Regions from separate parts of the Homo sapiens genome. Here region 1 is linked to region 2. Evidence: fine-mapped expression QTL. A gene starts in region 2. The other region holds a variant in brackets. All regions are shown on one strand. Distances are between the middles of the regions.

Region 1 (16,768 bases), 23 kb after region 2:
TTCACGCCATTCTCCTGCCTCAGCCTGCTGAGTAGCCAGGACTATAGGTGCCCACCACCCCGCCTAGCTAATTTTTTGTGTTTTCAGTAGAGACAGGGTTTCACCGTGTTAGCCAGGATGGTCTCGACCTCCTGACCTCGTGATCTGCCCGCCTCGGCCTCCCAAAGTGCTGGGATTACAGGCGTGAGCCACCATGCTGGCCAGAAAGCATTTTTTAAAGAGAAAAATTTGAAAGGGCTGAGCCAAAGAAATAAGTAACAACCCAGCTCATTTGGCTACTCATTTGTTAGCTGTTTCGATAGATTATATCATAGGGGAATATGAATTCAAATAAATGTTTTGCAGAATGAGTAAGTATTCCTTCTCTGATGCCAGTGAATGGATATACTAGTCTTGAGGATATTTTTACAGAACTTGTAAAATATTGAAAATTTTATTGTCTATGACCGGGACTCTTTGAAACGTCTCTGAGTTTAATGTATTTCTGTTGCACTGAGGGTAGATTAAATAAGGAAGTTCATGTCTTGAAACACTCCATAAGGACCCCACTGAAGTCAACATTCAGGCTGGTGGTTGCTACATACCTGTTTCCAGGGGCACACTGTAGCTGGGCAGGCTCCGTCCTGCCTGTGTTTCGGCCACAGCAGTGACAGAGAACACTGAGCCACAGGGCAAGCCCCGCATGGTGCAGGACTCTCCTGTGCTGCTGCACTGATACAGTCCTTTCTCCCCTTGGGCAGTCACCGTGTAAGTAGCATCATCATTAGTGGATCGCCAGTGCACATTAATCATGGAGAATGCATCCCTTGAAACATTTTTTATTTCAGGACTGCAAGGAGCTAAGACATTTTAGAGTATTAATTGAACCAGCATGAGTCAAAAATATCACATGTGCCATTTGGTCTAAAACTGATTTTGCCCCCAGTGAGATCATCACAGTTTTCAACCACGTCATGCATGCGGGCCAAATTCATAGTGCCTATGCGTGGGGAACTGTTGACATTAACACAGGGCATTGGGTTCATAGAGTACTGGACTAGCTGGAAAATGTTTAAAAGCATTGTGAACTCCAAAAGCAAAAGTAAGTAAGAAACATATTTATACACCTTCATGGTGTGAGTACAGGCAGGCCCCTCAAAGATAGGAGGAACCGAATGGCTGAAGTCATCATGGGCAAAACCTTCTACTCTCCCCGTGGTCTCCCCTTTTGTTTTCATTTTTTCCACTTTCCTCTTCTGCCTTCTCCTCTGCCTCTCCTTCGTACAACGGGGGCTCTCTTGGTCTCCACAAAGATTGATTAATGGGATTTAACCTTTTTATTGGTCTCACTGAATGCCCATCCTGAGGCTCAGAGCTGGGGTGAATCATTCAGACACCAGTGAGTGGAATGATAGCTGTGCCTTACCTGTGGTTATGAACTGGGGAGTACATGACATATTGCTGCCTCGGACTTCATTGAATGAATACACTGTGATGTTGTACTTGGTGTCACACTCTAGAGCCGAAAGGGTGCACGCAGGAGTAGTGTCATTGCACTCAACCATGTTGTACCCATCTACAGCCTTGGTTTCATACAGTTCGGCACCACGGACAGGAGACCAGACAATCTCAACTCTGTCACTGGACACCAACACGGGGTTAATGTCACTAGGACAACAGGGAGCTGAAAGCAGGAGCAGAGGGAAAATGGCGGTCCCATCAAGAGCAATGCAGCTGGGGGTACACTGTGTCCTGACCTCCCATGCCCAGAGCCTCTGCCACTGCCCTCCCTGATGACTACAGTGACTCCCTATGGGTCTGTCAAGGTCCAATCTTGGCCTAATTGCCACTGCATAGAGGGTAAATCCTCAGCATGACATTGAAGGTCATTGCAAGCTATAAGGTTCTGCTGTACTCCCCCCACTCCCTGCCACACCAGACTCCTCAATTCCCCCACGCCACGTGCGCCCTTGTTCTCTATGCAGAGAAGATTGCTGACCCCTCCACTGGAAAGCCATTCCCCTCTTCTGCCTGGTAAAATCATATGCAGTCTAACTTCTCAGATCCTGTCAGCCTTTCCAGACAGTAAACCAAATAAAACTGGGGGGTAGGGCTCACAGTTATATAAGTAGTTTTTTTGTTGTTGTTGTTGTTTTGTTTTTTCAAAGAGACAGGGTCTTGCTCTGCCACCCAGGCTGGAGTGCAGTGGTGTGATCTCAGCTCACAGCAACCTCTGCTTCCTGGGTTCAAGTGATTTTCAGGTCTTAGCCTCTGGAGTAGCTGGAATTACAGGCACATGCCACCACGTCCAGCTAATTTTTGCATTTTTAGCAGAGACAGAGTTTCTCCATGTTGCCCAGGCTGGTCTCAACTCCTGACCTCAAGTGATCTGCCTGCCTCGGCTTCCCAAAGTGTTGGGATTACAGGCGTGAACCACTGTGCCCGGCCGTATATAGGTAGGTCTTAAGAGACCCTAAAGAACCCCACTGGCAAATGTCTGACTCAGCTTGGAGTTTCCCTGGGATGCTCTTGCCCCACCTACATTCCCATTCATCCTTCAAGATCCAGTTCAAGGCCACTCTGGAGGGCCCTCTCGTGTCGGGACCTTATCGATAGCCTCTTTTTCCACATTCCAAAGGCACCAATGATTTAGATCCCTCATCCTGTCAAAATTTACTGTAATTCAGCTAGACTTTTACATAATTATGTTTGAGTATTCTTATTTGTAATGTAGTTATTTAATTTCAAATCACTCCACTCATTCTTCAAAACTTGAGCATCTCCCATATGCTGATCACACTATTATAAGCACTGAGGATGAAGAGATAAATAAGACATAATTCCTGCCTTGTACAAGATGCAAGCCTAGTAGAGGAGAATAATAGCAACAGCAACGGTGATGCTAATAATAAAAATATGTGCATCATGCTTTGTCACACACAAGACCTTTTTACATTCATGTTTTCATGATTTGTCCCATTTTGCAGTGGAGGATACTAAGGAACTAGCAAGGTGGGCATCATTATCCTCACTGAAGGAATGAATTAGTGGTCAAGTTAGGGTGTAAACCCAGGTGTCCTACTCCAAAGCCCTCCACACCATGTAGCGTCTTGGCCATTGTATGTCTGTCTTGGTCTCAGGGAAAGAGTGACCTCCTGAAACGGAGGCACTGCCTTCTCTCTGGCAGCAGCACATGCTAGAACACTCACTGAGTACATCTTTGTGGCGAGTTCAATCTTTCAGAGCAAGGTTGAACAACTACATTCTTTCTCCTCTTTTCACTCCCAAACCTTGCAGTCTAGTTATGCTTAGGTCCACAAAGCCAAAATTCCCTAGTCTGGAAAGAATGTGAGATAAGAGATTACTTTCTGTTCTTGGCTCTAGAATGACTCCCAGGTGGTAAGTCAATAAGTGGAATAGGTGATCCATTCTGCTGCTGAGGTTAGAGATCTCAGAACTCCCTTAACAAACATCAAATGGGACTTACCTGTGGTATAATTGAATATGTCACCCAAAGGACTTTGCCCTGCCTTGTTATAGACAAAAACACTAATAAAATAAGTGAAGCCACACTCAGATAAGAAGTTGCACTGAGTGAGAGATGTGTTGCAGTGTACTTCCAAGCCATCATCACTCTTCACAAAGACCACATAGTAGTCACCCAGATCTACACTGGACCAAGCCACAGACAGGTGGCCAGGGGGATCTTCTTGGATCGTCACTCTTCCGGGTGCACAAGCAACTAGGAAATGATCAATAATAAACATGAGACTACTGCAGGAGATTTTCTTCGCATCTTTGCAATTATCCAAGATTTCAATACAACCCAAATTAGCAACTCTGAGCTTTGTGACAGATTGAATTTGGTGCACAAAATGCAAAACTGTGCACTGGAAGCATTAGAAGATTTTCTTTATAGGACCAAAGGCTATGTTACAGGCCCCAAACCACTACAACAAATTTTAATGACCTCTCACATTCTCTTGTTATATGAAATATTGTTTGAAATAATGAGCCATCAGAGATTCATAGTCATCTTAAGACATACAAATTTTCATCGTTAGATTATTTGTTGAAATATTTGACTTCATCCAGAGATGAAGCTAGTCTGGCTTGAGTGGAATAATGAATATCCCAGAAGTTACCTGTTTTAGAGATTAAAATACAGACATCATTCATTGTGTTTTATATTAATATATTCTCTAATTCTTCCAGCAACTATCATCATTTTACAATTGAGGAAACTGAGGCTTATAGAGGTTGGTAAGTTGTCTAAGATCACATAAGTAGGAAGGAATGGAGCTGGGTCTTTCTGGGGGTTTATCTGTAAAGCCTCCATAGCATGGAAAATTCTTTTATTAAAAAAACTATTTTTTTAAATTTATTTTTTATTTTATTTATTATTTTTTTTGAGACAGAGTCTCACTCGGTTGCCCAGGCTGGAGCACAGTGATGTGATCTCGGCTCACTGCAACCTCCACCTCCTGGGCTGAAGTGATTCCCTTGCCTCAACCTCCCAAGCATCTGGGACTACAGGTGTGCACCACCATGCCCAACTAATTTTTGTACTTTTAGTAGAGACAAAGTTTCACCATGTTGGCCAGGCTGGTCTTGAACTCCTGACTTCAAGTGATCCTCCCCTCTCAGCCTCCCAAAGTGCTGGGATTACAGGCAGGAGCCAATGCGCCCAGCCTAAATTTATTTTTTAATTAATTAATTAATTAATTTTTTTTTTTTGGAGACAAGGTCTCGCTCTGTCACCCAGGCTGGAGTGCAGTGGTGCGATCTCAGCTCACTGCAACCTCTGCCTCCCAGGCTAAGGTGATCCTCCCACCTCAGCCTCGTGAGTAGCTGGAACTACAGGTGCATGCCACCATGAGCAGCTAATTTTTGTATTTTTTGTAGAGACGGGGTCTAGCCATGTTGCCCAGGCTAGTCTTGAACTCCTGGACTCAAGCAATCCACCCATCTCGGCCTCCTGAAGTGTTGAGATTACAGGCATGAGCCCCCGTGTGCAACCTGGAAAGTTTTTCTAACTGCAGCCTCTCATGCACTGAATGACAGAATACATTCTTATGCCCATTACATCCTCCAGGGAGCATCTTAAGCATAGAGTTAAGATACTAGATGCTACGAATAAGGAACAAATCAAATAGTATGTACAACTCAGTACAAACCCAGGAGACATTCTCAGATGTCCTAAAATTTATCTCACACAATAAGTGCTAGACTATGTCAAAAGCAGGCATGTATTGATTTGATTAATATTGACTGTTTCTCTGTGTTAAGGCAATACCTCATTTATCCACATAATGCCTCATTTATTGATGGAACAAAATCTTCTGAAAGAATGAATTCAAGTAAAGTTTGTTCATTCAAGTGCTAAGCTTTAAAAATTTTAGTTTTCTCTAGTGGAAATCTTCCCGAAATATATTACACACTTCTGGGCCCCAGGAGACACACCGTAGTTTGTAAACATAGTTCTTTTATTAATAAGTCAAGGTCATCCCTATGATCATGACTGTGTTATACACAAACTGCCTTAGAACATCCTGGACCTGTTAAGTGTGAAGGATTATTTCAATGGCACTTAACCCTGACTGCATAGTAGAATCAACTGGGGAGCTTTTACAAACTATTCATATCCAAATTCTATTCCCAGCAACTCCAGTTGGTCTTAAGTGGGACCTGGGTATTGGGATTTTGTAAAAGTTCCCCAGATGCTCTTAATGTGTGTCCAAGATTTAAAAACTCTGCATGGTTCTCCCCTGCATTAAATGCCTAACTGCGTAACTCAGAACTGCTATGCTTTTGAAAGTATTTTTTCTCTCTTCTCCCACTCTTAGCTATCTTGTCCTCATAATCGCTTCTAATGTACCATTCACATTAAATCACAGTTGTCAAAAGAGAAGCCAAATCATCAAGTTTGTTATCATTGACCTTAATTTAACATAACTATAAGAGAGTGCGGGCCTGAAAGAATAGCTTTATTTTTTTTTTCCTGTGGAATGGAGTGCATCAACTTGATGACAGCTCCTTTTCTTTCTGTTCAGAAGCTTTTTAAACTTAGAATGACATAACTGACTGTTAGATAAAGTAGATATTATTGTAATTGTCAACATTTTCTTTGGCTTTAAGCATTGGAATTAGGCAAACTTGAGCAGCTTGAATCTCAGCTCTACCACTTATTATCGGTGTGCCCTTAGGAAAATTATTTAACTTCTCTGAGCTTCAATTTTCTTATGTAAAAAAAGAGAAAATAGAACCCACCTCACTGAGTTGTCATGAGATTTAAATGAAATAACATACTTATAGTGCCAGAGACATAGTAGGTCTTCATTAAGTGTTAGTTTCATTAAGTGTTAGTTTCCATCCCCAAGACACATAGATATTTCTAAATAGAGGAGTCAACTTCCACATGTGTATGTGGTTATCTCTCTGATAAGAATGAAAATGGAAAAATATCTAAACGCATGTTCAGAACTAGAAATATCCTATCTTTTTCTTAAAAAATGGCGGCTCCCACCAAGCCTAGGACATGAGACATGACGCAAAGAAGACGCAGTTATCTGTATGCACAGTTAGAGCTGTGTACAACTCAAATCACATCTTAGAATTTTCACAGCTTTACAAAGGAAAAAGAAAAAACTAATTAATGAAAGATCTGGAATAGAAACCAGGCCTCCTAATTTTCCAAAAAGTGCTTTTTGCAATACACAATATCTCGCTTCACTATCAATATTATTCAAACTCATGAGAATGTCCAACTCTATGCTTTCATTTAGACCAGGCTTTCATTTTCATTTTTTCCAGAGTATTCAGAAACATTGTCAGTGAACGTCTCCCTTACAGCAGTCAGGGCTGCAAGCCCGACAGCAGTCTCACTCTTGTTTACATACCAGTTTTCAGGGTCATTGCTGAAGATGATTTGCTAGATCCAGCATCATTACTTGCTAAAACTGAAATCAAGTATTCAGTTCCACACTGGAGGGAAGAGATGGTGCAGGAACTGAAAGTTGTACTGCAGGTCAGCTCTGAAGAGTCGCTCAAAGCCATCACAGTATAATTGAAAGCTCCTTCTGCCCGTGCCCAGGAAAAAGATGCCTTCAGAGCTCCACTATCGAAAGAGACTTGAATGTTGGCAGGGGCCCGAGGACCTACATTTTAGAGAAACAATTAAGATTTTGTAGTAGCCTTACAAACTACGTAAGAGTTGGCATAACAATGTTGCAGAGCCTGGAGGATAAGGTACCCAATAGTTGGATAATTACAAGTGTTCAAAGCATAAAATTGGGATTTAGGATGATGCCTGGGAACTGGTAATTCATCTGCTACTATGCAAACTCATAATATACTGTGTGACCTTGACCCCATATTATTTACCCTTTTTGTTATTTATTTTTTTCTTATATCTAAATAGATCTAATAAGATCCATGCCTAACACCTATAGGTGCCAAAAGACATATTTTGAATGAATTAATGCATTATTTAATAAGTAGTTAAAATAGTTAAATGAAATTATAAATGGGGAGAACTAAAAGGGCCACGTGGGTACGTTATTATTAAGTGATAGGTCAAATATTTTCTGTTATTGATCAATGAAACTAAACATATCCCTTCGTTACTTTTGACATCTGCTACAACTTTTACTGTAATAGCTTTTCGGTCATAATTGTTTCTAGAGGAGCAGATTTTCTTTCCATTCATTATCAAAAGGAAGGAAGGAAGGTGTCAAGTGTGATGCATACATATTAAGGCAGTCTTTTAGTGTCTCCAAAACACTTAACCCTACATTCTTGTAAATATACCTTCCTTTCTTAAGAGTTACCGCATTAAAAAAGCGTAAGAAGGTGTCCTGGCCTGGGGAGGGGAGAAATTGGCCTCCGTTCTTTGGAATCTGTACTGTAATAACGCCCACGCAGCAGGCCTTAGGAAACTGCTTAAACAGTCTGTGAGCAGAGACCAGCATCCTCTGGACATGTCTGGGACAAACAGGGAAGGCCTCTTTTTTTTCTTTTTTTTGAGACGGAGCCTCGCTCTGTCGCCCAGGCTGGAGTGCAGTGTCGCAATCTTGGCTTACTGCAAACTCCGCCTCCGGGGTTCATGCCATTCTCCTGCCTCAGCCTCCTGAGTA[G/A]CTGGGACTACAGGCGCCCGGCACCATGCTCTGCTAATTTTTTGTATTTTTAGTAGAGACGGGGTTTCACCATGTTAGCCAGGATGTTCTTGATCTCCTGACCTCGTGATCCACCCGCCTCAGCCTCCCAAAGTGCTGGGATTACAGGCGTGAGCTACCGTGCCCGGCCGGGAAGGCCTCTTTGAGGACATGAGGACCTAACTCATTCTCTGTAAGGCAGGCATCTGCCATGATTTTCCCGTGGGCCATCTTGACAGGCCCCTTCCCACTGCATGGTCAGCTAGTCTGCAGAGGCAGTTCTGCTTTAGGGAAGTGCTGGGCCCAGGGCTGGTAGGGGTAGCCTGCAGTGTTTTAGGGCAACTTGCTTTTCCCACAGGAAGCATGGGAGAACTAGGAAAAATAGGTAGAGTAGTGAGAGCCTGTTATGAGTTGACTTGAGTTCCCTCCAAGTTCATATGTTGAAGTTCTTGCCCCTAGTACTCTCAGAATGTAGCCTTATTTGGAAATAGGGTCATAGCAGATGTAATCAGGTAAGATGAGATCATTAGGGTGGGCCCTCATCCAATATGGCTGATTTCCTTATTAAAAGAATAAATTTGGACACAGATACACATATATAGGGAAAATTCCATGTGAATGTGAAGATAACCATCTACAAGCCAAGGAGAGAGGCCTGGAACAGATTCTTCCTCACATCCCTCAGAAGGAACCAACCTAGCCAACACCTTGATTTCAGACTTCGTAGCCTCCAGAACCATGAAACCAAACATTTCTATTGTTCAAGTCACCCAGTTTGTGGTTCCAGCAGCCCTAGGAAACTAATCCAGAGGTGAAATCTAAACTCTGTAAAGCTTTGTAAAACATGGGGAAACCTATGTAGGGGAAGTCTTTAAGAAACAAGTTATTCTAGGGGATGCTGTCTCAGTGCCCCAGCCTGATGAAGATGCTGCCTCCTGTGCCTCGCTGTGTCGGCAGCCTTCTGCCAAAGCACTGGTCAGGTGAAACTGGAAACGCTGACTCACCATTGGTCTCTCCTTTGACATAGTCCATTCTTTGAATGGAGGGATCATGCTTTATTTGCTTTTGTATTTCCATCAGCTAACTTATGCCCAGCACACAGTGGGCCCTCAACAAATGTGGAAAGAAAAAAGCAGTGTGAAAGGGAAAGGAAAGGGAAGGACAGGAGGGGAAGATAAGGGAAGGAGGGAAGAAAGCAAGCCAGCCAGCCTAGGAAAAGGCCCAGGGAGACTGACTTGTCACAGACATCCTGACTCACCAAGACTGTCATGAATCACCGCAGGGCTATGATTATACTACCTCCCTAGGGAAATAGTATAAAAGGCAAACCCCTCTCTTCTCCCTACATTCTGCCTTGGCCCATACACTATGGGGCTTCCATTCCCCTCCAAACTTAGGGAAAGTTGGAGAGAACATTTCTGGTTTCTTTCCATCCTTTCCTGTGTCCTCCCCAAGTGGAGAAACAGCTAATCTGGTTGGTGAGAGTCTCCTATCTATGTAGGTTACATTGCCAGTGGATGGCTTACTCTGCCTCAAGGAAAGAAAAAACACCCCCTCTCGTTCTCTCTCTCTCTCTCTCTCTCTCTCTCTCTCATTCGCTTGGCTCACTCCAGCAGCTCAATTTGGACCTCCAGTTGTAATGCTGCAGAGTCCTTTGCTCGGGGGACCTCTAGGTGGGACGGTGAGAAAATGCACACCAAGCTTCAGCTTCTCCCCACAGCTGGAGGAGCAATAGTGGGAAGCCCCATGCTGACTTCAGACCCAAGCTGAGGCCTTTGGGAAACAGATCTGAAACATGAATTCCACTGCAGCATCAAGCACTGTGCCTGCAGAAACCTTGCTTTGCTTGCTGCTGTATCTCTAGAACAATGCCAGCTCAAAGTTGGCACACACTCACTCAGTATCTGCTGAACAAATGAATTCCTATTTGGCCCAATTCTTATACTAATTGGCCTGAACCCAGAAAGGGACAAGGGGTGATGGGTAAACTTAACAAGAATCATCTTCTTTTGTGTGAGGTCGAATGTGAATGCTGAAATTGAGTTGGATATTAGAGGGCGGAGCCATGCTGTGTGCATTCTGAGTAGCATTTCTTTATCCATGCAGGAAGCGTTTAAACTACCGAGGAGGAATAGACAAGGCACTATAAATAACTTTATAATAAATTTAAATAGCTGTTGCCAGCTGCTCTGTACTTGTCATGTAACACTGCCCTTGATGGCTGCAACACACAGCCCCCCTCATTAATCAAAAGTAGAATTGTTCGAGGCTGAGCTGAGAAGTTCTTACTTGTTCTCTGATTGCAGGTGGAGTCATCCCCAGGGATTCTGTTGGCATTCCATGCATAGGCCTTTATGGTGTAGAGAGTTCCGGCTTCTAAACTGGTGAATGTCAAGGAGGTGTTTGTAGTATTCTCTTTCCATATACTCCCCAAGCCATTGGCTCGCATAATGGACACGGAGAATGCAATTGCCATATATACAGCTTCCCACTGCACAAGAATGGAGTCTGAACTTGGAGAGCTTACTTCTAGAATTGGTGCAGCCAACACTAAAAAAATAAAAACACATGCATTTGTGTTACCAAAGTCCAATAGAGGATAATTCAAATTTAGAAGCAAGTAAATTGATATCCATAATATACAATAATTATTTGCTTTAGAAGAGCATTCACAACAAAGTTTCATTAAATAATTGCTATTTAAGTGTATACTAATCATAAATGACTTGGCAGAGGAATGGGAAACAGAGAAACGCTAAATATCAGGCACTACTTTTAACTGAAGTTAGTCAGAAATTAGATAAAACATTCCTATAATCATAATATAAATCAATGGGAAAATTAGGGGTTACACCATTTTAATGTGCACATAACTTTTCAGAAATATGCCTAGGTACAACTTTATCAAATCAATTTCAGTAATGCTGATGACAAACTCCAAATGCTTTTATTTGTTTTGTTAACATATATGCCATACGGTCAGAGTGCAGCAAAATCCCTTCTCTGTGTTCTTCATTTGGCGTGTTAAAACCAGAAATCCCTATTTCAGAGATTTAAAAGCTGGGATGCTTTTAAAGATGCCCAGAAATGGGCTTTATTTTCCAAAGCAAAGCAGCTGGCATTTAAATGCCACCTCCTCCGCAGATAGCTGAATTCTCAAACAGCATCATTTGGTAGCTTTCACTTCTGGGCCTTGAATTGTAGGCACTCATGTGACACCAAATCACATTCTGCATTTGCAGCACCAGGATAACTGATCCAAGTCACAAGCAAACACTCAACGGAGGATGAGCATCCATCCAGCCACCTGTCTTTGCCTGCTTTGGAGGTGACGCCTGGCTTCTCCCAGCAGCGCTGATGGATCTGATGGTGATTTCATACCAGGTTGCAGCCTTTAGTCCCGTCACAGTGCCTGGGGAATTGGCCACCGTGGTTTCAATGACTGTGTCCCCGTCTTCAGCCGTGAGGAGGTAACTGGTGGCACCCGGCACTGTAGCCCATTCTACAGTGATACTGTTGCTGAGTTTTGAATATGCCTGATCAATAGTGGGTATTTCAGGAGCTGAAAGAGGTTTTAGAGTTGTACATTAGCCAAGATACCTACGAGGATGACTTCTTTCATCATTTTACTCTTCAAGCTAAATCATTCTCATGCCTTCCTTCAGACAGAAGTTTTGCCCTTATTATTCAGATCAAGGAAAAACAGAGAAAAAGAAAGACAAAGCTACTCTCCAGAAGAGATCCAGAAAGCTCAAACCTCTCATTCAGGGATGGGATTTTAAAGTTTTCCCCAATTGCCTGTGGGGTAATTTGCACTTTTTGTACTTTTAAAAGAGCTAAATAAGAATGAGAAGTAATTACGGGAAAGAACTCTGGGAAGAGAGAGAGAATAATTGAGAGGCTTTCTTCCAGAGTATTCTACTCCAATTGGGCATTCTGTGACTTTTGCAGGCTGCTTTGCCATTGATCTCCCCTCCTGGTCCCACAGCCATCCCACTGCCTCCAGCTGGACCCATCTCCATTCCTCCTGCCTCCGCTCAGTGGCTGCGGTCACTCTCTCATGCACTTTGCACGTTTTCCAGATAACCTTTAATCCAATGGAGCAAGGAGGGAGGATTGAGTTCTTTGTTATAATTACTCCATAGCACTTTCTTTCATATTATCAGAGTGGAATAATTCTCAGATTCTTCCATACAAAATAAAAGTAAACTTTATTCTCCCTTTCTCTATCACAATATCTGCCTCAGCATAAGAATGTGATGGGCCGGGCTATGGTTTGCCAGGAGATATGAATGCTTATGTCATGGGCTTACACAAAGCATTCCTACACTCAGGAGTATGGAGTAGGAGATACAGCACAGTAATCAGATTGACTACTTTACAAAATTCCATAGATGCAAAAATGTCTTGGATATAGGAGATCTAAGTGGAAGAAAAGGTCAAACAAAAATAGCTGAGTTTTATTTGAAACTGGCACTTGGACTTTCAGGTTTAATGTACTCCACTTGCTGGGTAAAATCACTATATGTCAAATTCAAAACTAAAGGGAAGACAAACAAGCAGAACTATAGGGCAAAGAGGGAGAAGGAGTAAAGACAGACAGGTGATTCTCCAGCATCAGCTCCCCTTCTCCCAGAGCCAAGTCCCTATGTGCACGATACAGACAACTTTCTCTTTCTGTACCAATAGCCCAGAGAGTTAGCTTTGGCAGCATCTCAGAAATAACCATGCTGCAAAAATGAACAAAGTCTCCTCTGTGCCCTGGCCAGACATTCCTTGAACATCACCCAGGATAGTCTCTTTTGCCATTGAAAGAAAATTATGACACTTATATATGCTGGAGGAAAATCTCAGGCCTGCTCATCATAGCCACTTGCCAGTGGAAGCCAATTCTATAGGAAAGGGCTTCGCTCCCTCTCTCCCCTACAGAATAGAAAGCCCCAGCAGGGGCTCCCTCTTCCAACACACACACACACACACACACACACACACACACACACACACACACACACACACACCTCTCTTCTGCTCCCCAAGCTAATGATCCTGTGCTATATGCCTTCTTTCCTCTAATTTTCTGGTGTCTCTCAACTCCTTCTGTTTCCTCTGTCCCCAGAGTTAATCTTATCTCCTATGTTACCAGTTCTGTTCATTGGAATGAACTAACTTCCTGGGAAAATGACAGCCAAACTGGCCACAGACACAGGAGGCCGGATCATGCATTCACGGAGCAGTTTGAAAGGCATCTAAAAGGCTAGCATGACACAGACCCTCTCCCCACAGGCCTGTCATGGGGCCCGCGGGCTCCACAAAACTGGCCTCATGGAATTGATCTAGGAGAGGCACATTTGCTTGGAAGTCATAATGCAGGAAGCCAGTATCACAGAATGAAACTCGGGGTTGTGTGGTGGGAAAATAGCAAAGGGTTTGGATTCAGGAGCTCTGGGTTTGAGCCCTGGCCCTGCTATTTACTTTTGTGTGTGAAGGCATGCAAGTCATTTTACCTCTTCTAGACTTGTTACCTTCCTTGACAAATACGGATTATTAATACCTACATATTAGGATTTACTTTGAAATTTAAAATACCTGCATTTTAGGATTGTTGTAAAGAATAAGTGAAATAATGTATGTTAGGGCACTTGGAAAGTGTGTGTGTGTGTGTGTGTGCGCGCGCGCACGCACGCGCATGTTTGTGTATGAGCCAAGACAAGTAAATTTTGATGGGTTCGGAAAAGCCAGACCATATGGCGCTGCCATGGAGGGGTCCTGTGAAAGTGGGATTCTGAGGAGTATGCGGCAAACACAGGCTGGAGAGAGAGATTGTCTGTTTTACACCTGGTTTTAGGGCAGGCTGTGACCAGCATCAACAATGAAATGAGATCAACACCTATGTAGTATGTTGCCCTTTAGTAGATGAGAAGCTGGAGTGTAAAGTCCATAAAATAGCAGCAGTTCCTTACTCTTTCTTACTTCTATGTTTAGCCCACTGACTGGACTGATGAAAGAGAAAACTTTATTCCCTAGATGTGCAACCAACCACTCTGGTCAGTCAAAAATGAACCCTTTGATTCTCAGCATCTGTGCATTCCACCAGCTCAAAGAGATCTAAATTAGCCCACGAGGCCCCAGTGACCAGACACAGATACACAGCAATACCAGAGCCCAAAGAGAATCAAAACACACACAACCAAAATGAAACCTTCTATACAGTGTAGCTAAAACACATTCTATCTGTTGAAAAGCCGGGACTCAATTAGCAATTGAGTCAATTAGCAGCAGCATCAGTAGCTTAGCCTGACCCACCATTTCTCTAGATTAGTGCAGATGCTATAAACACCAAAAAGGGGCCTGTTCTGAGGGCTTGGTCTGTCCTGGGTGTGCTAGGACCTTGTAAGAGACGGCAGAGTTAGATTCTGTCCACCCAAAGTCGACTTATTTAAGAAGCCGGCCGGGCGCGGTGGCTCACGCTTGTAATCCCAGCACTTTGGGAGGCCGAGGCGGGCGGATCATGAGGTCAGGTGATCGAGACCACGGTGAAACCCTGTCTCTACTAAAAATACAAAAAATTAGCCGGGGGTAGTGGCGGGTGCCTGTAGTCCCAGCTGCTCGGAGAGGCTGAGGCAGGAGAATGGCCTGAACCTGGGAGGCAGAGCTTGCAGTGAACCGAGATTGCACCACTGCACTCCAGCCTGGGCGACAGAGACTCTGTCTCAAAAAAAAAAAAAAAAAAAAATGCCACTTTGTATATGGCCAAGCAGACCCTCCTATAGTTTCCTGGCTAATCCTAAAGATCTCTCAAGAATAAGACAAGTAAATAAGAATAAAGCAAGAGGTGGGGTGTTGCTATGTTGCCCAGGCTGGTCTTGAAATCCTGGGCTCAAGCAATCCTCCCATCTTGGCTTCCCAAAGTGCTGAGATTATAGGCGTGAGCCTTGGTACCTGGCCAGGAAATAGAAATTTTTAAAAACTTACTGTATATGCATGAATTTTATGAAATTTCATGGCTCAGACATGTATCTGTATCAAATTTTTTAACTGTCTTAATTTCACTTCCTTTTCTGTGGTGTAGACAAAATAATAAATAAAAATTTTTCTAATTTATGTTGAATCACTATGAGAATTTATCGGTGATATGGTTGATATTATGTGGTTCCTACAGATAAGTTAACCCTCCTAAAAATAAATTTCCATTCCAGGTACTTAGATTTCTAGCACAAATGAGCTAGGAGGGGCCTCTAGATAAATTATTTTTGCCTTCGGTTATCTACTCAAGAAAGATGGAGATCAACTATTTTTAAAAGAGGGTCCCCTTTCAGCCCTGAGTGACTATTGTCTATATTTCAAATATGCAATATTAGAAGTATAAAGTTCTTTTTAAAGTAGGGAATATTGACAATTTAATCAAATATAACATTTCTCATTTTCCCTCTAATTCCCCGGAAGATAAACAAGAACATTTGTATAAATTAGACTCTGTACAATATCTTAACTGGAATGATGATCATTGTAATATTTCACACATGGCTAACCGTATATGAGAAAATGCATGCCTACATGGCTCTGTACATTATAGTCCTCAGCAAGAACACTTTATGAAGATTTGTCTTTCGAGTTCAATCCATTTATTTGTCTTACCAGTTATTGTCTCCCCAGGACCCAATAGAGTGCTTAGCACCCAGTGTGAGTGCTCAGAAAATATTGAATTTTTTTTTCTCATATAGCCTTTAGATTTCAGGGTAGCCCGTGAATTAACAATGGAAATTAAAATCAAATACGAGAAGGAAAAACTTGCAGGTCAGAAAATTGTACCTGATTTTGCTGAAGCAACCTGAAAAGGAAAGTTTGGAAAATTAGAACCACACAGAAAAACACAACTTGAACAAACGTAAAACATGAATAAAAGCGGTAATAAATTAATCACAACATTTTTACATCTAACGTGAGCAGTCTTTCAATCCATACAAGTATTTCTCCACACAAATCATTTCCCAGCACCCAAATCTACCACAAAACAACTCTAAATAGAATTTAGAGGCTGGAGGCAGATCCCATTACTATTTCATTTTTTTCCCCTTTGAATCTGCCTATTGAACTAAGTCAGTAGCTGCTGACAGATTTTTCAGAAATCTTTGTTCTTAAAATATAATGATAATCTTGTTTTCTTTCTCTAGTATATGGCATTAAATTTCAAACACGCAAACATATACAACCTCGGTACAAACCAAAGTATTCTGATTTCTATCTCCCTATTCCCCAACTCCTCAAAAAAAAAAGGAGAGAAAAATAATGTGTCTTTCTTTTTTCCCCTAAATAGTTGTGGGTAGTTGGAATGATGAACTCACCATTTTAAGACAGATAAGAATGAATCCAATCAAAGGCAAACATGTCTCTCGTCCACCAGCCATCCTGTTGGACATAGTACTCACATGGCACAAAACAAAGCAATCCGGGTCCTCTTTGGCCCCCAGGAGTATAACACCGTTGGTCGCTGGGATGTAGGGCTGTGATGCTGGGAAGAGACCCTAGGAAGTAGCTCCTCCCCTTCAGTGTGGAGCTGACCTGTAACCAGGGGCACTTGGAGACCGGCAGGGACAGGTATTGCAAAGACTGAAAAGAAGAAGAGAGTTGGAGAAAGC
Region 2 (13,492 bases):
GAAAGGGAAGGGAGGTTGTAGGAATTCCTGACTTTGTAGCCAAGACAGACAGAAGTGTGGGTAACCTAGGGACTTGGTACTGGCATTTGAAGTGAAGGCAGTATTGTGAGACTGAGCCCTTAAACCTGTGGAGTCTGACACTAACTAGTGTTCCTAGCTAACTAGTTCCTAACTAACTGGATATCCTACAATTCATTTCAATTCTGACACTAATACAGCTGGTGTCCAGAGTTGGAGAACTGGTTGGTGTGAGGGGGGAATAAAACACATATTTGGTGTCAGAAATGTTGTTAGTAAAAGCAATTCAGTTATTTATAGTCATTTTTAGAATTGTGATCTGGAAGGTTGTATTGTGATTGAGAAGATTTGGAAGTGTTATGAAATATCAATTGAGATAATTATATATTGTTTGCTAGGAGGATTATAGTGTTATATGAGAATTATGGTGAAAGTCCGAAATATTTAACCATAATTTAAGCCAAAAGCGCTGGCTTCTAGAACCCTACAGGCAAAAATAAAGGATTTTCTCCGGTAGAGCTCAGATACAGAAATATTATGCTGCTTTTCCTTTCAAAGCTAGCTTCATTCCTTATACCTCAAACAGCTGAAAATTGAAGACATTTGCTTGTTTTTATCAGATTTATTTGTGTCTTTCTCTTAAGAAATGAATGCTCATGGAATTTATGATGGAGCAGATTGGAGAAAAGCTCCCCAAGCAGAAGTCATCTCATTACAGTCTTTGAAACCTTAGAACTGCATTGTCCTAGATGGTGGAAACCAGCCATATCTGGCTATTGAGCACCTGAAATGTGGCTAGTCTGAACTGAGATATCCTGTAAGTACAGAATACATATGAGACTTCAAAAAACCTTAGCACAAAAAAAGGAATGTAAAAAACTTATTAGGTCAAATATAATATATTAATTTTACCTTTTTCTTTTTACCTTTTTATGTGACTACTAGAAAATTTAAAATTACATATGTGCTTTAAATTTCTAATGATAGAACTGTCTTGGAATCTGAAGATACTTGGATCTACCTGTGTCTGCCAGACGAAAAAATAAAAAGAATCTGAAGATACCTACAGAGTCAGTGTTATTGTCTAAAAGAACGAACTAGTTTTATGGAGATAGTAAGGGCACCCATAAAAAGTGACACAGTCACAGGTAGGTATGTTTAGAGAGGAGTCAAAGGAAATCATATCAACAAATACTATAGAACTAAGGAGGTATTTCCTCTAAATACTAATGAAAATCATTTGACCTTATATCCATTTCTCTAGCATCCTAAATATGGATATATCTCAAGACTCAATTCTCTTACTTTTGCTCTGCTTGTTCTCAGAGCAAAGGTAAGAGAATTTGCTCCTGTGGCTGGTCTTCTCAGAGACCATATTCATCATCAAAGTTTCATCTATCATATTAATCTTTCGATTTTCCACAATCTTACAGCCTTTCTCTCTTTGAACTTCATTCAACTACGCAATACAGATACAAGCAGCTACATGTCTCAAGTTGAGATTACAGCACCCTGAAAACTACTCTAGACTTATTTCTCTAAGTATTATTGTCATTTTCTTAGTCATTGTCTTTGTCTATTTCCTCCTTTCCCCACGCCCACCTATTAGGCATATTGATTGTTCTCCCTGGTAGCTATTATTTTTCATTGCTACTGTCACCCAGCATCGACTTGATTCTTCTCTCTCACTGAAGTACTGCAATAGAATCCTATCTGGATTTCCTGCTTTCCACCTCCAACACCTTTGCTATTTCAATCCATTTTTCACACAGCTGTCAGAGTCACCTTCCTGAAATACAACCCTTTGTTTATATTAATACACACCTCGAAATTCCCTCAAATGCTCACTCTTGCTTATAGAATAAAATCTAAACTCTACTATTTAACATCCTCCACTGACTGGCTTCTACCTAATCTCTAAATTAATCTTCCACTAGTCCAAAAGTTACCCAAATAATTTTTGTTTTTGTTTTTTGAGACTGAGTTATGCTCTGTCACCCAGGCTGAATTGAGTGGCATGATCACTGCTCACTGCAGCCTCAACTTCCCAGGCTCCAGCGATCCTCCCACTTCAGCCTCCCGAGTAGCTGGGACCACAGGTGTGCGTTACCACACCTGGCTAATTTTTGTATTTTTGATAGAGAGAGAGTTTCACCATGTTGCTCAGGCTGGTCTCGAACTCCTGAGCTCAAGCAATCCACCTGCTTTGGCCTCCCAAAGTGCTGTAATTACAGGCGTGAGCCACTGTGCCCGGGCTTACGCTAGCTATTTATTTATTTATTTAGACTCAGGGTCTTGCTCTGTCACCCAGGCTGGAGTGCGGTGGCACAATCAATGTCCACTGCAGCCTCAGCCTCCTGGGCTGAAGGGATCCTCCTGCCTCAGCCTCCCATGTAGGTGGGAACACAGGTGCATGTCACCAAACATGGTTAATTTTAAAATTTTTTTGTAGAGATGGGGTCTCACTTTGTTGCCCACTCCTAGGCTCAGGTGATCATCTTGCCCCGGCCTCCCAAAGTGTTGGGATTACAGGCGTGAACCACTGCACCTGGCCATAATTTTTTCTTTTCTTTTCTGCTATCAAAATTTTTTGCCACCTCAAGGTATTTAAAAAGCAATTTAAAATGTTAATTACGAGATTGTGAAGCAACATGAAAAATGTTGAGTCAATGTCAGTTGTTTAAAAAAAAGGAAGTCACAGAATGACAGATAATAAAAACAATGTCTTTATCTGTATGAGGATCAGAAGGAAAATGTGAAAAAGGGAAAAGCTTATGATTCAATATGTAAAGAACTGGCTTAAATACATACATGCGGATGTTAATCACATATATATCTTGGAAATTATACAACACAATTTGTTACCCATTTTCACATAAATGTATTTAAATACCATTGTTTTAAAACATCTCAAATCTTAAGTCAGCCATGTAAATCTTGAAAAAGCAAATGCCAACCTTAAAATTATCTAATCTTTTAAAAGATAATTTCATATTTTTCACCTATTTATACATTTGCTTAGTGCCTGCTATATGTTAAGCACTATCCCAGTTACTGATTTGGATTTTTAATTTTAGACAAGGAACTCTAACTCCCAGAATTCTGCTGACTAAATCATTTGTTTTTTGTTCAACAAGTTGGACTAAGAAATACTAATTAGATGCTACTCCCTTTCCACTACTAGGCCATAATTATCTTGAACTCAGAGATACCAAACAATGATGGTTATTCCTGTTGGGTGGTTTCATTCTTTCTCTAACCTGCCAGACCTAGGTTTGGAGCGATGTTTATGAAAGTTGTGGATGATACCGCAGAACATCAGTAACCAATAAGGAGTCCGGTCCTAACAGCAGGGAGGGGCCCCCGAGAGTAGGGAAAACGGAAGGAGCGGCTCTTGCCCAGGCTATGCAGGAAGATGTCACGGCTGGACACCGGTCATTCCAATGGTCTCTTCTCAAGAACTTTTCAGAAAGTAGGCTCCTCTCGGAATAGGGGAAGATGAGTCTGTTAAACAGTGAGGTTTTTTGAAAAGCACGGGTTGATACTAACACGAATAAGCAGAATAAACAGTCCTTGCAAACTCCAGTGTGGGGTGGAGATGGGGGCGGAATAAACAGCGCCCGAATTGTCTCGGATGGAGAGACATCCCCAACTGGTGGAGCGCGGACGGGAGCGGAGAAGAGTGGGGAGCGCGGCCGAGGGCACGCACGGGCTCCGCGGGAGGGAAAGCCGGGCCGGGCGGCTCACCCGGGGCGGAGCTTCGCGGCCAGAGCGCGGCCGAGGCGAGGGGGTGCCCGACGCCAACGAGAAGGCCGCGTCCCGTCGCACCCCGCCCATCCCTGGTGCTGGCAAGGAATAAGGCAGGGCAGGAAAGCAGGAAGAAGTCCTCACACAGGTCCCAAAGCAACAAGTGCTCGCGGCGGCTCCTCAACAGACCGCTGGGTTGGGGCTGCAAAACGAGGCCCGGCACGGCAGCCTCCCGGCCTTCCCTCTCTCAACCCCTACCCCACCGCACTCACTCTGCCACACGACGCTCTTTAGCCCCCTCTCTGCCACCGGCGGCGCCATCTTCCCGACACTGCGGAGCAGCAGCCACCACCTTCCACTCCCAACCTACTTTGGCCGCAGAAGCGGCGTTGGGGTGGCCCCGCCCCTTGCTGCAGGGGAATGCCCCACCCCCTCTAGCAGACCGCGCCCTCCGGTGACGTCACGCGCGTCAGCAAGGGAATTTCCGCCCACTCCCGGACGGAGGCTGCGCAGTACAGGTGGAACCTCCGTGGGAAGTCGGGAGCCCCCTAGCGGGAGGCTGCTGTCGCCCGAGGTTCGACGTCCTGTGGCCTAGGAACGCGAAGTGCCAAACCGATCGTGAGCCAAGGCCGTCTATGAAATTCCGAGTTCACACATACACGAAGACTGGAGGATCCTCCCCATTACAGAAGAACCCTTCACTTCGCAAGGCGATTCATAATAGACTTCACTCAGTAGCCAGCCCAACTACCCAATGGAAAATGTACTGTCCCCAAATGATTATTTCATTCATTTTTTCAAGGACACAGTAATTGCGTAGAACTGTGAGGTTCCCTCCAGTGTGCCAAGAACTGTGCTGGACTTTTAGGAAACTCAAAGAAATGAGAGATCAACTCTTTCCCCTGAATAATTTACAATCTAATTAAAGAGCACAATTCCTGGAATGCTGCAGGTAGTTAAAACTTAGTTTAAAAATTGAATGCCTTAATGATAAGATATACATAAATGAACCAACAAAAGAATAATCATTTATTAACAAATTTATGCAACAAATGTAGGGAGGGCCTGTTAATGCTTCAGAATCTACAATTATTGTTGAAAGTTGATTCACAGAGGAGGAGATCTGAGCTCAGAAAGTTTAGGTAGAGATCTGTTTACTGAGATGGTTCCTTTGGGACTTTAAATCAAAGTAATCAAACGTAAGTGAGATCAGTTTAGTTGCTAAGAGCCCTAACTGTGAGATAACCATGTGACATTGGCAGAAAGTAGGCTTTCCTAGAAGGATTTGCAAAGAACCAGTGGCTGTAAAGATTCAAATTGGTCACACAGGGAAGTAGAAGTGGTTAGATACTACTACTAATAATAATGTCTAATATTTACTGAGTGCTTACTTACCATATGCCAGGCACCATGCTAAGTAGATTACCTCACTGATCCTCAAAGCAACACTTACAACAAGGAAACTGAGGCTTAATGAAGTCAAGTAACTTGCCAAGGATGCACTTAGTGGTGGAGTGGGAACAAAGATCAGGCTTGGGCTACATGGAAAGCAATAGAGTAGTCTGTGGGGTAACCTGCAATTTTTAGGAGAGGAAAGGCAAATGAAGAATTAAGAACAGGCTGGGCATGGTGGCTCACACCTGTAATCCCAGCACTTTGGGAGGCCTAGGCAGGAGGACTGATAGAGGCCAGGAGTTTAAGACCAGCCTGGGCAACATAGCAAGACTGCTGTCTCCACCAAAAAAAAAAAAAAAATTAATAAAAAAGTTAGCTGGGCATGATGGCGCATGCTACCTGCAAGCTGAGGAGTCGTAGCTACTTGCGAGGCTGACGTAGGACGACTGCTTGAGCCTGGGAGTTCCAGGCTGCAGTGAGCTATGATCATGCAACTGTACTCCAGTTTGGGGAACAGAATGAGACCCTGTATCTAACAATAAAAAAGGCCATAAAATGGGTTCTGGCACAACCTATGGCTGAGTGGTTTTTCTGTTCAAGGCTTATATGAGAATAGAAGCTGGAGCCCTGACCTCCTTTAAACCTACTCTAAATTGATTCAGTTGCTCAATGTTTTAAACAAGTGCACATATGATTTCCCTCTCCCTTTTCATTTTAAGTTAGGTTCTGCTTAGTTTAGCAGGGTGAAGCCCCAATCCATAAGAAAAATATGTGCCAGGGAAAATTCACCCTTCTGAGGTGAAGCCCCTTGCTCTGAAGAGCCAAACCAAGAGGGAAGAGTGAGATGGGTGAGGTGCCTCCATCTCTTACCCTTCAGGAGAATGACCAGGTGCCAGGGAATAATACAGGTCCCTCTGGGTTGGAAGTTTGACTCTGGTCACATGGGGTGCAGTTCTGGCTCATGCTCCTGAAGGCCAGAGTCCTTGGTGGCACTGCGGAATAGTGGAGCAAGCATGGTCTTTAACTGCACGTAGGCATAGGTTTACATCCTACAAAATCTGGCTCTGCCTCTTACTAGCAGTGTGACCTCAAACACCTCAGTTTCATTGCACCTGTGTGCTGAATATGAATATATTATCTCAAACCTCGCAACAGCCCAGCAAGATGACCATTGCCATTTTACATATGAGAAAACTGAGTCTCAGGGAGGTTAAATAAATCATGAAAAATCTCAAAATGAGCTAGGATCTGGATCCATCTGGCTCCAAGGCCATTGCTCTTTCTAGTGTACCAAATTGCCTATCCTCCCAGGCTCCCCTAGATTTGCATAAGCTCCCTAAGCAGTTTCTCTACGTCTCCTCTAGTTTGCTTGCCTAAACAAATTGAAAAATGAACTTGGATTCCCTAAATGTGACACAGCAAAGTAGAAGGTAAAATCTGCTAACACTGGCCAGGGATGAAAAGCTGCTTTGTATAATTCAGAGCAGGTAAATGGCCAAAATAACCGAGGGTTGAATGTACACGCACTTGAGTTAGGGCAGATCACTCACTCACTATCCTATTCCCAGATCTCCTCTAATAAGCGATCACTTATTCATAATAATCTAGAGAAATATTTTCCATAAAGATATCATGGGAGGCCGGGCGCGGTGGCTCACGCCTGTAATCCCAGCACTTTGGGAGGCAGAGGCGGGTGGATCACAAGGTCAAGAGATCGAGACCATCCTGGCCAACATGGTGAAACCCCGTCTCTATTGAAAGTATAAAATTAGCTGGGCGTGGTGGCGGGTGCCTGTAGTCCCAGCTACTCGGGAGGCTGAGGCAGGAGAATCGCTTGAACCCAGGAGGTGGTGGTTGCAGTGAGCTGGGATCACGCCATTGCACTCCAGCCTGGGCGACAGAGCAAGACGCCATCTCAAAAAAACAAAAACAACAACAACAACAAAAAAAAACAAAAGATATCATGGGTACCTAACATAAAGATATGATAAATGCTTGAGGTAATGGATGCCCCAATTACCCTGATTTGATCATTATACATTGTATACCTGTATCAAAATGTGACATGTACCCCATAAATATATACAACTATTATGTACCCATAATAATTAAAATTAAAATTTTAACTGAAAGATAGCATGAATTAGCAGGTCTAACCAATGCTACTTACTTCTCTCCCTGAAACTTTGTGTTTGAACTGATTAGCCGTGTGAACATGGGTGGGCTACTTGACCTTTCTGGGCCCGTTTTTCCCTACCTGTATAAAGGAGATAATGTTATTACTTAGCTTGTAGGGTTGTTATGAGAATAAAACGAGCATATGGAGAGCACTTACAAGCTGGTAGTTTGTGCTATATACACGTTAAATAACCTAATTTTATCTTTACCCACTGTGGATCACATTTTCTTCTGTGACATTCTGACCAAAACAATTCAGCCTTAGGTGCCTAGCTAGGCAGATGGCTATTTCACTTTCTGTGCCTTGGTATTTGTAGGGTATTAGGTGTGCTCTCTGATGCTTCCAATTCCATTTTTAGAGATATATACCTTTGGCTTGTCTCTGTTCATGTACAGATGTTCTGGGGAAGATCTCTTATTAGTGACCCATTACGTATCTCTGATCAGTCTCATAGAGAAAGCATATCACTTCTCTCTTGCAGCGCACGTTGATAGGAAGTTGAGAGAACAGAAAGGGAAGTTTGTTCTTTCTTCCATGCTTAGTTCGAGCCTAATTCCATGGTCCAATTCCCCCTGGGCAGAGTTTTATGGTTGTTCCTAACTAGAGACATGCTTGGCTCCATAGCCATGTGTTTGGGGAGCAAGCACTATAACTGTGTGTGTGCATGTGCGTGTGTGTGTTATACAAGTCTACTCACATGTTTTAAATTAGGTTACTGATATTTGAAGGACAAACTTTTTTAGGTATGAGAGATTTATGTTATATTTCATTGCCTTCCCCCTCCAAAGATGAAAAAAGTAATTACAATATGAGTGGGGGATATGGCCAATAAGATGGATGGTCCTCCCCCAAAAGATGCACGCATGTCAGTCGGCCACAGTTTGAGGCTCTCCATTTGACATCTTCTCTCATGCAGAAAGCATAACTGCAACCCTTCTAGCAACAGGCTGGCAGCTCTGCTTTCCCAGATGCTCCCATAGATGTCACGCCACCTGATGCTTTGGCTCAGCGAACCCTGCAAGCAGCTCAGCTTTGCTCCTAACTTGCGATGAGGGCGTTTGTTATCTCAGGTTGCCCTGGCAGCTACTGCTTTCCAACCTATACTGAAGTCCTGCTGGAGGTTTGTCTTGGGATAAGTGCTGTCTGCATGTGGGTGGCTTGACTTTCTGGGAGTGAACATTTCCAGCCCCTGAGGGGGCTGCAGACAAGTGCTGTTGTAAAACACTCATGAAGTGGATGTGTTGAAGTCTGTGGTGTGTGTGGATGTGAAATCTCAGAATTTCTGCTAAGCAGAACTTTCTTGTTTCCAGGGTTCTCACAGTGTGCCAACTCAGGCTAGCAGCCGTCCAGGGGACTTTCTGGATTCATTTCTCTCCAGAGTCCTCACATAGCAGATCTCCAACTGCTGTGCAGGTGAGGACACACCTGACCTTGCCCTCAGGAAGCAGAGTCAGAGTTGTTCTTCTAAAGGCCAAAGGAGCTTTTCCTATCCTAGAGGCATTTTTATTCTACATTCTAGTAGATCTTTTCCATCTCTAATCACTAACAAATGAGACAACTCTGCAAGACAAATGGGAAAACATTTTAAACAAAGACAAAAAACTTTGCCATAAAATCACACAAAATCAATTTACGTTACTCACTTGGTCAAGTTTTTGTTTTTATCTGGGGCTCACTTTGTCATTCTTCATTTCTCTTCCCTCTATAAATCACTGAAAAGGGTAAGGAAGGGAAGCAGTAAAAGATGCATTCAATATGCAGACATTTTCTTAAAAAGCACCAGTGTCTGAGATTTTATGTGTATGTTGATTTGAAATGCTATTTTTGCAGCACTTCACGGCAAGTAAACATGAAACTATGACAACTGACAAAGTGTTCAAACTGATCAGCAGTTTCTAACCAGAGCAGTCTCTCTCCTGCTTCACCAAATGAACCCTCCCAGAGTCTCTTTAATCCCAGACCACTGGTTCAAAACAAAAGGACTTTCCTTTTCACCCCCAGGCCAACTTGCTGTGCTCCTCAGGGAACTCCAAAATTTTAATGACTCAGGGAGTTTTATATGGAAAACATAAACCTGTTTAGCTGCTAAGTATGTCACAGAGAGGAAGCTTCCTCAAAGTTGCCCAGGATGTACAGGTGACACTGAAACATGTTGGGTCCTAAAGATGAAGGAACACCCCCAGCCCCTGCTCATGGTGTGATGTCAGGCACAAACCCCTCCCATCTATCTACCTCTTGTTAGAGCCGCTATCACCTCAAATAGGTTTTTTTTTTCCTTTCCCTTCCAACTTGCATCAAATTTCCAGCATTGAAATAGCTTTCTTGAATTAAAGCCATGCTTTTTGTACTTTAGCATCCATCAGAAGCACTTTGAGGGCTTGTTGAAACAAAGAAGGCTGGGCCCTAGCCCCAGAATTTCTGATTCAATAGGTCTGTGGAAGAGTCTGAAAAATTGCATTTCTAAGAGGTTCCCAGCTGATGCTGATACTTTTGGCACCAGGACCACACTTAGAGAATCAATGAGGAAGTGTATTATGAGGACCAAGGTTAAAATGCAAATGTCTTCGTTAGAAGTAGCACATTAAAATGTTAATAATTGGTACATAATAGAATGTGATATGAGCTTAAACTGAATATGAATTAACAACTACCATTTATTAAGTAGTTGTTATGAGCCTATTATTGTGTCCAATAATTTACATTCTCATTTAATCCTGATTTTCTTTTATGAGGGATTATTATTTACTCTAATTTTCAGATGAGGAAACCTAGGCTCAGAGAGAATTTACACAACTTGACTAAGAGCAAGTGATGGTGGCAGGATTTGAATCCAGATCTCTCTTAAAAAGTCTGTTTATGGCCGGTGCGGTGGCTCACGCCTGTAATCCCAGCACTTCGGGAGGCCAAGGCAGGTGGATCGCATGAGTCTAGGAGTTCAAGACCAGCCTGGCCAACATAGTGAAACCCCATCTCTGCTAAAAATACAAAAATTAGCCAAGTGTGGTGGCGCACATCTGTAATCCCAGCTACTAAAGTGGCTGAGGCGCGAGAATCGCTTGAATCCCAGAGGTGGAGGTTGCAGTGAGCTGAGATTGCACCACTGCACTCCAGCCTGGATGACAGAGCAAAACTCCATCTCAAAAAAAAAAAAAAAAAAAAAAAAAAAGTTTGAAAAGCTTTAGGATACTCCAAGAGTCAAAGAAAACCCAAAGAAAACCTTAGACCAGCAAGATTCCCATGGCTCCCCTCAGCATATCCAGAGGCTCCAATGTCAGCCCAGGGACCTGATTGGACTTGCTCTGTGTTTGGGGAGGGGAAATGCTGAAATTGAAGACAGCAATTTAGAATTTCCCCCTAGATATAATGACTTCCATATGACCTTAGAAACCCTCAAATAATCTGGCTTACTCTTGTTTTTGGAGGGCCTTGCGGGATTTTTTTTTTTTTTTTTTTTTAGAGAGATGGCGTTGAGGGCAGGGGGCTCTCACTATGTTGCCAAGGTCGGCCTCAAACCCCTGGGCTCAAGTGATTCTCTACCTCAGCCTCCTGAATAGTTGGGACTACAGGTGTGTGACACTGTGTCTGGCTCCTACAGGATTTCTACAAATATCTACTTCAAGAGAGTAGCAGATTTCAGGCTAAAGACTGAGCCCTGGCTAAGGAAGGGAATGGTGAAGATAAGCTGAAGCCTAGAAGGACAGAAAAGAGGACATTAGTGATCTAAAGCAGTGCTCCTCAAACTTCATGTGTATCAAAATCACCTGGGAACCTGATGGAAATATAGAGGCACTTCACTAGGCCAGGACCTGGGCCTCTGCATTCATTATTAACTGTCCAGGAGATTCTAATACACAGCAGAGTTTAAGAGCAGTACCTAAGCAGTGCTACTCAAACTTGAATACATGCACGAATCACCTGGGGATTTAGTAGGTCAGGATGGGGCCCAAGACTGTACATTTCTAAAAAGCTCTCTGGTGATGCTGGTGTCTCACTCTGTCACCCAGGCTGGAGCGCAGTGGTGCTATCATAGCTCACTGCAGCCTTGAATTCCCAGCCTCAAGCAATCTTCTCACCTCACCCTCCCAAGTAGCTGGGACTACAGGGGAACTACAGGCACATGCCACCATGCCTGGCTACTTTATTTACACTTTGTAGAGACAAGGTCTCGTTTTGTTGGCCAGGCTGGTCTCCAACTCCAGGGCTCAAGCAATCCTGCTTTGGTCTCCCAAAGTGCTGAGATTACAGGCGTGAGCCACCATGCCTGCTCTCCTTGCCACCCCACCTTTTGTGTTTTTTGTTAAAACATAGACATTCTTTCTTTTCAAACATTTTTAAATTTTTTTTTTTACATTTTTACATTTTTATTTTTTTTGTTTTTATTTGAAACCCTTCCTTGAACAAAATCATAGGCAAGGCCAATATATCATACACCACTCCTCTCCCCTGGGGACCTAGGACACTTCTACCACACCTCTATGTCTCAGGGAGATACTGATTAAAGAATGCAGACCTAGGTCCATGTACCTTTCACTGAAGACCAGGGTGTATGGTCTCTACTACTTTGGGAGACTTTTTTATAATTAGAAGTGTCCTCACAGTTTGTTTTCAGTAAGCCAAGTCTGTTCCTTTTTGTAGTCATAGAAAACAAAAACTCTTGAAAAATTAATAAGGATTGTGCTTATTTCAGACCTGCAGGTGGGACAGGAATTGAAAAGTGTGTAACCTGCTGTGCTCAGAGAAGCAATAGACTGGGAGAGGAAGGGAGCCCAGGCAGAGAACAGGGAGTGGAGACTCTAGACCCAGTTCCTGCCAGTGGAAGGGGGTGTGGGTGGGGAGCCAGCCCCGACTGGAAGGCTGTCCAGTGGGGTTTACGGGCAAGAAGGCTTCATTTACACTCACACCATTCAAAATCAGCCATGTCTGAATGGGGAGGGGTGGGGTGGGGGTGGGCGGGAGAGAAGTTCTGTAGTTTGGGGTTGATAATATTCCCAGGGGATTTTTTCCTAAGGCCCCAGACCAAGCTGTCCCCTAAAAGGCTGTGGCAAGGACTCCTCATGAGGCAGCATACACTGCTTACTGGGTCAACACTCATGGCTCCATTTGCTCATCTCCACTGCCCTGCCAAGAGTCATCTCTGTGGGGGCAACCAAAATAGCCTAGACAAGATCATCCCTGAGCAAAACCAAGGAGGCAGTGAGGGTTCTCTTTATTCCAACTGCCCTTTCAGCACCCTCTCTCTCCACGGGGTATACCCACTCATGCAAACCAGGAGCAAACATCGTAGCTCTCTGCAGGCCGTTAACAGATTCTCTCTAACTCCTGGCTACTCCATGTGTGGTCAGACCAGCAGCCTCGGCATCGCCAGCATCACCTGGACCTTATGGAAATACGGAGTCTCAGACACTTCCTACACCGACCAAATCAGAATCTGGCTTTAACGAGGCCCCAGGTGATGTGTGTGCACAATAAAGTTTGAGAAGCACGGCTCTAAAGTAGCAGTTCTTAGCCTTGGCTATACTTCAGAATCACCTGAAGAGCTTTTACAACTCCTGATGCCCAGCTCTCACCCCAGACCCATTAAATCAAACTTTCTGGGGACAGAACCAGACATCAGTTAATTTTAAGCTCTCCAGGTGACTCCAGTGTACAGCTGAGCTGGGAATCACTTTCTGAAGTGTGAGGGATGAAGCCGCTGCCCCTCCCAAAACTATTTACATTTTCCTGTAGGATCCTAGAATACTAAAAAGACTTCAGAATTCAAAGAAATTCATCTCAACTGGTGGAATCTCAGAGGAGGCACTATAATGGGGAGAAAAAGTCATGGGATAAGAGAGCAGGAGCCCCTTGTATCAAAGAAAGAAAGCATTTGCTTTCTAATTGAAAAGTCAGCTGACTTCATTAACCCCAAAATGGAGCAACAAAAATCCTGTTCTATTTTATCCATGAGAAAAATGACTTACCCATTCCAAGTGTACTTCCAGAGCAAGTTACTGTAATAAAAACACAAGCATTTAAAATAAAATCTATTCATTTATGTATTTAAGATAGTGAAGATTTAACTTAAGAAAGAATAAAAGGAAAGTAAACCAAAAAACGAACAAGAACGAACTTGGGTGATAAGAGAAGGAGATACTACTAGCAGTATGACCTGGG

The links. PIP is the estimated chance that this variant, and not a neighbour inherited with it, causes the effect.
Region 1: its variant is fine-mapped to the expression of STXBP3 in fibroblasts (GTEx, PIP above 0.99).

What each region holds. Positions count from the first base shown.
Region 1 is chr1:108,712,703-108,729,470 of GRCh38, reverse strand. FNDC7 (fibronectin type III domain containing 7) reads right to left here and starts at 16,563. Exons shown (of 13, transcript NM_001144937.3): 1 at 16,475-16,563; 2 at 15,942-15,960; 3 at 11,440-11,694; 4 at 10,422-10,682; 5 at 6,879-7,136; 6 at 3,467-3,721; 7 at 1,406-1,663; 8 at 585-839. The coding sequence starts at 16,537. RefSeq lists enhancers at 6,889-6,948, 6,969-7,078. The variant G/A (reference allele first, on the strand shown) is at 8,115.
Region 2 is chr1:108,737,332-108,750,823 of GRCh38, reverse strand. STXBP3 (syntaxin binding protein 3) reads right to left here and starts at 4,150. Exons shown (of 19, transcript NM_007269.4): 1 at 4,038-4,150. The coding sequence starts at 4,086. It overlaps FNDC7 (fibronectin type III domain containing 7), which reads right to left. Exons shown (of 13, transcript NM_001144937.3): 11 at 13,300-13,329; 12 at 8,983-9,051; 13 at 8,075-8,899. The coding sequence ends at 9,020. RefSeq lists a silencer at 3,649-3,768 and enhancers at 3,969-4,378, 3,901-4,471.